Linked DNA regions of Homo sapiens. The protein of the gene in region 1 interacts with the protein of each later gene in a pairwise test. Each region holds a gene or a part of one and is shown in the gene's direction. Other genes may lie near its edges. The genes, in order: ERGIC3, APOD and GPM6B.

Region 1 (3,184 bases):
TGCAGAGCTTTGGCCTTGACAACGTACGTACCAGATGGAAACCATGGAGGGCAGGTGGGGGTGGGAGGCTTGGTTGCTGCCTTCATTTCCTTGTAGGAACATCCTGGGATGGGGTAGTGCATATGGAAAAATACACCACGTTCTGAATGGGGATCCAGCCTGAGGGTTAAGCGAGAGTGACTTTTGAACTGAACTCTGAGCAGGCTAGGGGCAAGATTGGGGTTGGATAAGAGCATCCTAGACAGACAGAGCCTCAGCGCAAGGTCAGGCGGGAGCATGGCCCTTCTAAGGAACTGCGGGGCAGGTGTGGATGGGTGAGGCTGGAGAAGTCGGCAGGGACCAGACCACACCGGACTCAGAGGCCACGCTGAGGAATCACATCTTTCTCATGAGAACAGTGGAAAGCTGTTGGCCTTCTTTAAGCAGGATCACGACATAATCAGATTTGCATTTTAGGAAAGATCCTTCTAGTGTCTGAGGCTGATACACAAGGGAGCAGGAAGGGAGTGTATCTGGGGGTTCACAGCCTCCAGCCTAGGCCTCCAGGCAAAGCCAGCACCTGCTACTCTGTGTGCCTAACGTACAAGTGAAGCTGGTATTTTAAGAAATCTGGAACCTGGCCAGGCATGGTGGCTCATGCTTGTAATCCCAGCTACTCAGGAGGCTGAGGCAAGAGAATCGCTTGAATAAGGCGAGGCTGCAGTGAGCCAAGATCATGCCACTGCTCTCCAGCCTGGGCAACAGAGTGAGACCTTGTCTCAAAAAAAAAAAAAAAAAAGAAAAATCTGGAACCCCAGGAGTTTGCAGGCTGTGGAAGGAGGAGTTTCTAGGCAGGGAATGGGGGATTCTTATCTCGGGGAGGTTGTCCCCTTAGGACCATAGCCTCCCCTTCCTCCCACATCTCCGCAGACGGACCCAGGTGTCCCTGTCTGCTACTGTCATCAGAGCTTTGGATGAGCTCTGGATGGTGTTGTTTACAGATCAACATGACCCACTACATCCAGCACCTGTCATTTGGGGAGGACTATCCAGGCATTGTGAACCCCCTGGACCACACCAATGTCACTGCGCCCCAAGGTACCAGCCCGGGAGGCAGCCCCCAGCCGCAGAAGGCCGGCCGGGCACCCATACCCAGTGCTTTGTTTTCCCCTCAGCCTCCATGATGTTCCAGTACTTTGTGAAGGTGGTGCCCACTGTGTACATGAAGGTGGACGGAGAGGTGAGTCAGGGAGCTCCCTACCAGAGTCTCCTGCGCGGTGCCAAGCACTGGAGTTCCTGCATTTCGTTCCGTCAGCCTGGGGAGTGAAAGCTGCCTCGTCCTCACATGGCGAATAAAAGACTGAGGCACAGAGAGGGTGGGGGATTTGCCCTCCCAGGCAGAGTGCAGGCCTGGGGCTGTTAGATTTAAAGCGCCTGCTCTTTCTGCTGCCCTCACCGCTTCTATCCGTTCCTCCGGTGCCCACCGTCTGCCTGCCTCACTGTTCTCTGTGGTCTGCCTGGGCTGGGGGTTAGGCAAGGCAAGTCTCTGTGTACCCGCTCCCAAGGCTGCCCTGGCCTGTGGAGCAGCATCTCAGCAGAGTGGCAGGATGCGAGGGGCTGAGGGCAGAGGAAGTCAGGTCAGCCTTGGTGCGTCTTTGGAGAGCTGCTTCTCAGCCTGGACCCCCGTGAGAACACCCACCAAATGCTGCCAGGATAGGTAAACTGTAAAGACTTGGCACCTGGAGGGGAAGGCTGAGGCCAAGACTAGGAGAGGGGGTCTGGCGGGCCAGGCCTTGCAGTGCAGGCCACTAGCACGGTGCTGTGTTCTCTCCTTACACGGCCAAGGCTCAACAGGAAAGGGGAAGGAGCAGGGGTGGGGCTGATGGTGGCTGGAGCCAGGTCCTAGCCCTAGCCCTGGCCCAGGCTCCCCTCCCACCCCAGGTACTGAGGACAAATCAGTTCTCTGTGACCAGACATGAGAAGGTTGCCAATGGGCTGTTGGGCGACCAAGGCCTTCCCGGAGTCTTCGTCCTCTATGAGCTCTCGCCCATGATGGTGAAGCTGACGGAGAAGCACAGGTGAGGATGGGGGCAAAGCGGCCTCTGGGGGCCTGGGCCTGAGGGAGGAGGATGCCTGCTGAGCCCACCCTCTCCTTCTACCAGGTCCTTCACCCACTTCCTGACAGGTGTGTGCGCCATCATTGGGGGCATGTTCACAGGTAAGAGGCCCAGGGCGTCTGTGAGCTGTGGGGTGGGGAGGGTAAAGCCTGGGTGCCCCAGGTTTGGTTGGGGGTGAAGGGGCAGATGCTGGCCTGGCCAGTTAAGTGACAAGGCTCTCAGCGTCAAAAGCCAAGGCCCCCACTGGGCCAGTGCCAGCCCTTGTCTCTCTCCCAGTGGCTGGACTCATCGATTCGCTCATCTACCACTCAGCACGAGCCATCCAGAAGAAAATTGATCTAGGGAAGACAACGTAGTCACCCTCGGTGCTTCCTCTGTCTCCTCTTTCTCCCTGGCCTGTGGTTGTCCCCCAGCCTCTGCCACCCTCCACCTCCTCGGTCAGCCCCAGCCCCAGGTTGATAAATCTATTGATTGATTGTGATAGTACTCACTGGTCTCCGTGTGATCCTTGCCATGGCCAGAGCCTCATCCTGGCCACTCATTGAAGGCAATTGTGACTGACAGATCGGGGCCCAGAGCCCTCGGGAGCCCCACATGGGCATCCCCTAGTTAACCGGGGTTTATTCAAACCAGGTTCATGTCCAGCCCACAGCCCTGTCCTGGGTCCCTCCTCCACTGTGGTCCTCAGGCCTCTCGGGTTCAGCCCCAGGGCTCAGATGGACCTTTTCAGCGTGAGCTTCCTGGAGCCACCATGGCCCCCAGGCTCATGAGTGATCAACCCCAGGCCACTAATTCAGGGCCCTGAGTGCATATTGGGGCTTGCCACTTCTTCATTGATGGGTAAAGCTGGGGCCGCTCTCCGCCACCCTGGGCTCAATACACCTGATCCTGTCACACTCACTGATCCCACTCTGTGCCAAACCCCACGCTGGCTCTCACTGCAGAGAGGAATCCCTCCAGGTCCTCTGCAGTCTAGATGGAAGCAAAACTGAACACTGAGGTGCGAAAGTAGCAGTCAGTGGCCATTCTGGAGCAGGGCCAGCACCAGACCCCTGGCTTGGAGCCTAATCAGGGTTTCCCATTAGAAC
Region 2 (3,023 bases), on another chromosome or scaffold:
TCCCAACAACCTTTGAGAATGGACGCTGCATCCAGGCCAACTACTCACTAATGGAAAACGGAAAGATCAAAGTGTTAAACCAGGAGTTGAGGTGAGTGGCTGTGGGCGTCCGGGGCCAGGCCTGCGGAGTGCTGATGCAGAGTGACTGGGTGTCCGGCAGCCTGGGTCAGGGAGGATGGGAACCTTGCTGGATCGGGACTGCCTGCTCCTAGCAGGAATTGAGAGGAAAGCGTTTGGCAGGCAAGGATGGCAAGGACTAGGATCCACTTATGCATTTCCATGACCACCTGCGGGGCACAAACTGACAGGGTTCCTGCACTCACTGCAAAATAGATACTCTGGTAGCAAAGAACATCAAGACCATCTCTTCTGACCTCCAGTCTGGGAGAGAAGCCGCTTCGACACCATCTGCTGACAGAAGCATCCAGCTTTGTTCAAACACTTCCAGGAACTGGGAGCTCATCGCCTTCCAGGACAGTTCATCCCATCTCTGGGCAGCTTAATCTATCAGAAAGCTCCTTTTCTTATTAAGCAAGAATCACATACACAACATTCACACTCTAGGTTATGTAAACAGGATATCCTTTAGAAGTGTACATTTCTATTACTGAGGGCTTCTAACACAATAATTAATCCAAAAAGCTACGCTTTGGAAAGCAACTATAAACTTAAAAAGAGCCCCAGGAAGAGCTCCTTCCTACCCACCTTCCACTCTTGAAAATACAAATGCAGTTTTTCCATGAACATGTTGTGACTTCATGGTCAGAGACTGGTGTCCTGAAAACCGTTCTAGAGCAAAATGCAATTGACGGTGAAAAGGGCAGAATCTGCTGGGAGGAGACTGGTTTGTTGCTAAGTTAACGTATGCAGATAGAAACAGACCATCTTCCCCAGCTGTCTGAGATCCAGATGAGAGAGGAGGGCACGGTCTCCAGCTTTACATGGTGATAAACAGAGAAAGTACTTGGGAACATCAGAGCACAGTTCCCAGAATCCCTGGCCTGTTGCTCATTGTCCTGTTTCTAGGACATCCGTCACCACTAACCATAGCATTAACCTACTGACTTTCTTTTTTTTTTTTAATTGTATTTTAGTAGAGACGGGGTTTCACTGTGTTGGCCAGGCTGGTCTTGATCTCCTGACCTTGTGATCCGCCCCCCCTTGGCCTCCCAAAGTGCTGGGATTACAGGCGTGAGCCACCACGCCCGGCCAACCTACTGACTTTCTAACACATACGACTGCTCTAATTTCAGTTGGCCTCCCTGCTCTGCCTTGAGGATTGATAAACAGACATCCTCTCCTCTGTTGGCTTCCTAGGAAGAGCACCCTGATGCCTTAGCACCCTCCCTTTGGTGCCTCCATCTCCACACCTTTCCCCTTCTCCCAAGTTCATGGGGCCATTGGGAGTCATCTAGAAAGCAGGCTCATTCAAAGAGGTGAAAGTATTGCATCCAATCTAAGCCCCCAGCTTTTAAGACACACCACTGCGTTATATGCCACTAAGAAAGGAATGACACTGCTAATTGTCAGGTGACATCAATTGTGAGATATGCATTTCTTCACATTTAATGTCTCTGAAATCTGGGCATACCTGAGAATCACTGAGATAAAGTAAATGTTTCTTCACTGCCTCCTTTTACTTGGCCTACATTGAAATCCCCCACACTCACTCAGAGGCTTGCTGAACTAGAGGGAGTCTCTGGACTCAGGCCCCTTGATGGGACAGGCGATGTCACATGATATCACTGAGGCCCAAAGAAGGGGAACGCTTTTATGTCTCCTTGTTTTGAATTATTTTCAGTGATCAAGTCCATCCTCATCTGTACCTTTGGCCCTTCTCGTTTTAAAAAGAAGTGAATCTGCCAGGCACGGCGGCTCACGCCTGTAATCCCAGCACTTTGGGAGGCTGAGGCAGGTAGATTGCCTGAGGTCAGGAGTTTGAGACCAGCCTGGCTAACATGGTGAAACCCCGTCTCTACTAAAGATACAAAAAATTAGCCAGGCGTGGTGGTGCATGCCTGTAATCTCAGCTCCTGGGGAGGCTGAGGGAGGAGAATTGCTTGAACCGGGGAGGCAGAGGTTGCAGTAAGCCGAGATCGCACCACTGCACTCCAGCCTGGGGGACAGAGCAAGACTCCATCTCCAAAAAAAAAAAAAAGTGAATCTTCTTTGTGTGTTGGGTTGTTTTGTTTGTTTTTCCATTCTCTTTTCTCCCTTTCTTTGGAGACTGGGAGCAGGAATTGGTCTTTCAGGCCATAGAAGATAGTCAGAGATAGTGTTGAAGTGCAAGGGCCTAACATACTGTCCCATCCTGGAGCTTGTCAATTGCGGCTTCTTATCACCCCGCTGCTCTCTTCCCCTGCTTGGCCTCAGAGACAGTCACAAGGGAAAGGCCAGGCCATGGAGCTAGGGTCTAGCCTGCCTTTGAGAGCCTCTCTTACCAGAAATCACGGTGTTGGCTGCCACGGTCCTTAGTGGCACAAATCTTGCCTTTCGTTGCTTATTGGCTTTCAATGAGTTGTTTTTCTTTTCTCTTTTCGTTTTTTGTATTTTTTCTTTTTTTAACTCACTGCAGAGCTGATGGAACTGTGAATCAAATCGAAGGTGAAGCCACCCCAGTTAACCTCACAGAGCCTGCCAAGCTGGAAGTTAAGTTTTCCTGGTGTAAGTATCCACTTTTCCCAGGAGGATTCAGGGACAGGAAATATGCAAACTGAAGGCTAGCGCCCCGGCTTGGAGAATTCCTGAGACACCTGAGTGTCATCTATAATCACTCAGCACATAATTATCTGTCAAACACTTACTACATGTCACGCACTAGGGTTGCCATGATGAGCCGGACAGAGCTGGCCTTGGTACTTATGGAGCTCACATCCCAGTGTGGATACTGACACGTGACCCCGCAATTTACTATAACTAGCTAGCGTTTCAACAGGTGAAACACAAGTAGGTGCACACCGGGTGTGGGCTGCAGAAGACACAACCCAGTCTTGTTTCCCAAAGGAAACTGGGGCCCGAAACAT
Region 3 (3,655 bases), on another chromosome or scaffold:
TGTGTTTCTGTGTAAATACACCGTATTTAATATATATTGTTGATTCCTTAATATTGAATTCATGGCCAATAGCTCTATCCCTATGCCTGAATGAAGCTTCTCTAATGAACATTTTCTCTGGTCAGGCAGTTTGCAACCTTCTTGCACTTAGGGACTCTAGACAGCACTGCAGCACTATGCTTGGGAGCCATTTTAAGCAGCAAAATCACCCACAAAATGCACAAAAATGTGAAAAACGTGGCACTAAATATACTTCGAGTATACTTATTTACAGTCTGAGAGCTGAAACAAGAAGGCAGAGTATTGCCTTGTTCAGCCTCAGCTGGGAATGTGCATACCGGGCAACTCAACTTTCACCGCTCTGCACATGTCTGCTAATAACTGCGAAAGAAGTGCCTCAAGTATTAAGGATTACAAATGAATCTTAGCAAGTAGGCAGTCACAAATGTGGAATCTACAAGTAATGAAAATCAACTGTATAAATACACGCTCTTATGTATGTATGTTTGTATACATGTAATTTTGGAGGGCTTGGTTTGTGATTTCAGGAAAACCAACTAAGATTGGTAGAGCAAGGGAAAAATCTCAGCTGCTTGTAAATTATTCATTCCCAGTTTTTCTGACCATTAAATCCCCTTAGAATCTATGAAAAAAACCACCTTTAAAATCATGGGGTGACCTGTTCTTTTGGTTGAGCAACAGGGAGGAAAGATAACTGCCTGCTGCTGAGCAGGTGGTTTTGGAAAGATGAGAGGATTAAGGCATTTAGCTTCATCCTTCTCATGCTGTTGACCCAGCTCTCTGTCTTGTTATTCTTGAAACGCATCCAAGTCCTTTTAGTAAACTCACTGAGGGCAGAACCAATGACTTACATTGTACATGTGTGATGAGAAAAAGTTTGTGTGTGCTAGATAGGAAAATTGTCTGTTGTGATTTTAAGTGGGAAAAAAACACCTTAGACTATGAGCAGGCACCCGTCCCCACCCAAGTTTAGAAGTGTCATGGCATCGGCCCTCACTGCCTGTATCTTACTGTCCTGTTTTGTTCTCTTCCACCAGCTGATCTACATGATGGCTACTACATATAACTATGCGGTTTTGAAGTTTAAGAGTCGGGAAGATTGCTGCACTAAATTCTAAATTGCATAAGGAGTTTTAGAGAGCTATGCTCTGTAGCATGAAATATCACTGACACTCCAGACTAAAGCAGAGTCTAGGTTTCTGCAATTTTGTTACAGTAATTTGTAAATAGCTTTAGTAAACTCACCTTGCATGGTAGATTAATAAGATGACTTACTGTACATGAATTACACAATAATGAGATCTGGTGGCTATTTCCACATTTTGAAAAGGATTCAGTTATTTACTGACAGTGGTGAGCATCCTTTTTAAAATAATGTTCTCATACTTAAACATTAGAGAGCAGTATCTTTAAATGAATTATTAACACTTTGGAATACTTACATTTTCTGTTATTTTTGATTGCCTGATAACCAGTTTCAATGATGAAAATGAAAACAAGTGCTGAAGATGAAATGGAAGAGAACCGTTTTAATCTGGATTTTGTTTTGTCACACCTGGAAAATACTTTGCAAATATGTTCTAAATTGAAAACAATTTTTTTATGATCACATGGTTCACTACCAAATGACCCTCAAATAAGCCAGATGAAAATTTGAAGAAAAAGGTCACCCAGTTCTCTGGAAAAAAAAAAAAAAAAAAAAAAAAAAGGATTTATATGTGGGTAGTTTTTTTTTTGGTACAACACAATCATTCTGTTAGAGCCCACAAAATTGGTAACCTTAAATTGTGTGTTTTGGTAAGTAATAACTAACTGTTTCCTCATAGCTAGTTCTCAAGCTGCATGTAAGATTTTAACGGGAAGAGAAAATAGGCCTGGACCTGAAGGTCTCAAATATGTTGAGAAGAAAGTATGAACTATAAGGAACTTGAGATGTAGATTTATTTTGCAGGAAATACGAGGAAAATAGGAAAGAAGTGTTTGCCGCATCAAGTGTAAAGAATGATACTGAGGATTTTTACATTTTATGAAATGAAATAATGGCATTTACAAAATGAAAAATGTAGTTTCACAACTAAGTTTTGTTAACAGAGACTGCATGCTTTGCTTATAGTTCTTAATTTTGGTTTTGACATTCATTTAATTTTTTCCATGTTAAATATGTAGTTTAATTATTTACTCAAAATAAACATTGTTCATGCTTTTAGGCCTTTGGGGGAATTGATTTTTATCCACAGGTAGAAAATGGTCTTTGCACACACTACACTTATTTCAAATATACAATGTGCTCCCGAACTTTCGCATTAGTCTTTAAAATTACTCTCAAAATGGTATTAAAAAAAAAAAAAAAAGCACCCTCTCGTATTTCATTTTTGCTTTTTCTTAACAATACCTTTGGCCATTTTTTTCCAGTTCACTATGTTTGTATACTAACTTTTCTTCAGCCTTTTAATGCGAAGCCAACTAGTAGAGCATGCTTTCAGGATCTGACAGCTCTGCTAGTAGAGCGAGTATTTATTAATACAGAATTAACCTTCGCCCCTTTAAAGTCAAGTCTGTCTAATCTAACTAGCGCCTCGCTTTGCCTTCTCACAATGCTCACTAGCCATCATGCTCACCCTTCTCTTCCAGATCCACTTCCTCATGATACTGTCTTCTAACTGGGCTTACTTAAAGGATGCGAGCAAAATGCAGGCTTACCAGGATATCAAAGCAAAGGAAGAACAGGAACTGCAAGATATCCAGTCTCGGTCAAAAGAACAACTCAATTCTTACACATAAATGTTTGCCAGAGTGTTTCGGCCGACGTATTTACAGCTCTGACAAATCATCAGACAGCTGCTCTGCAGTACAGATGTGTATCCCACCAAACTAATGTAGATGTACAAACACTTCACTGTCTGTCTCAAGCTGCTGGGATGTATCTCTAGGAAAACCTTCCAGTGGGTAAATCTTTTTCTTTAGAACAAATATTGGAGGTTTCATGTTAGCCATTTTAAAAGGCAACACTTTGACAAAATGATCGTTCATACTTTGGGAATTTGTGGCATGTTCACATTTATTGCTAGGGCAATTCTACCAAGACACTCAATGGAATATGTCACACTCCTTAATAGGGACCTGTGACTCCTTAATAAGGACCTGTGACATGCCCAGCATCAAGGGATAAGACCGTAAATTCACATATATGCCATCTGTCCTCAAGTGTTATCTACATAGGAAATAAAATGGAATTGATGTAAAGTTCCATTTCTGACAGCTGACATTTATTAAACTTTGGATCAAAGATAATGTGATTCTTATGATTGATTTCTCAAACTAGCTTTTCCCTCCCAAGTCCAGGACCCATTAATTTCCTGAGCCAATCAGAAATATATTTTTCAATAATGCTAAAATTAGCTACAATTCTGCTGACCCTACTATTAAAGAATCTGGATGCTGGACTCACTGACAAGCTTTCCAGAAGCAATTTTATAACAGATTTCATTTTAACAAAATACTGATCCAATTTTCATTATTCTTGAGAAATGTCAGCTTTGCCTTAATGAGTATTTGCTTTAAATTTCTAAGAATTTATATCATAACTAGAGACCCAAATATCTTTCACAGAATTTTGTTCCATAAATGTTTTTCT

The links.
Region 2: the proteins of ERGIC3 (region 1) and APOD interact in binary tests that used the Homo sapiens proteins (3 or more experiments, as listed by UniProt).
Region 3: the proteins of ERGIC3 (region 1) and GPM6B interact in binary tests that used the Homo sapiens proteins (3 or more experiments, as listed by UniProt).

What each region holds. Positions count from the first base shown.
Region 1 is NC_000020.11:35,555,053-35,558,236, forward strand, and holds the end of ERGIC3 (endoplasmic reticulum-Golgi intermediate compartment protein 3), read left to right. Parts: coding exon 1-23; intron 24-980; coding exon 981-1,077; intron 1,078-1,154; coding exon 1,155-1,219; intron 1,220-1,920; coding exon 1,921-2,057; intron 2,058-2,141; coding exon 2,142-2,197; intron 2,198-2,372; coding exon 2,373-2,452; 3' UTR 2,453-2,582; downstream 2,583-3,184. UniProt on the Homo sapiens protein: Possible role in transport between endoplasmic reticulum and Golgi. Positively regulates trafficking of the secretory proteins SERPINA1/alpha1-antitrypsin and HP/haptoglobin.
Region 2 is NC_000003.12:195,570,918-195,573,940, reverse strand, and holds part of APOD (apolipoprotein D precursor), read left to right. Parts: coding exon 1-91; intron 92-2,575; coding exon 2,576-2,664; intron 2,665-3,023. UniProt on the Homo sapiens protein: APOD occurs in the macromolecular complex with lecithin-cholesterol acyltransferase. It is probably involved in the transport and binding of bilin. Appears to be able to transport a variety of ligands in a number of different contexts.
Region 3 is NC_000023.11:13,772,028-13,775,682, reverse strand, and holds part of GPM6B (neuronal membrane glycoprotein M6-b), read left to right. Parts: intron 1-1,058; coding exon of another isoform or gene 1,059-1,139; exon of another isoform or gene 1,140-2,652; coding exon 2,653-2,802; 3' UTR 2,803-3,655. UniProt on the Homo sapiens protein: May be involved in neural development. Involved in regulation of osteoblast function and bone formation. Involved in matrix vesicle release by osteoblasts; this function seems to involve maintenance of the actin cytoskeleton.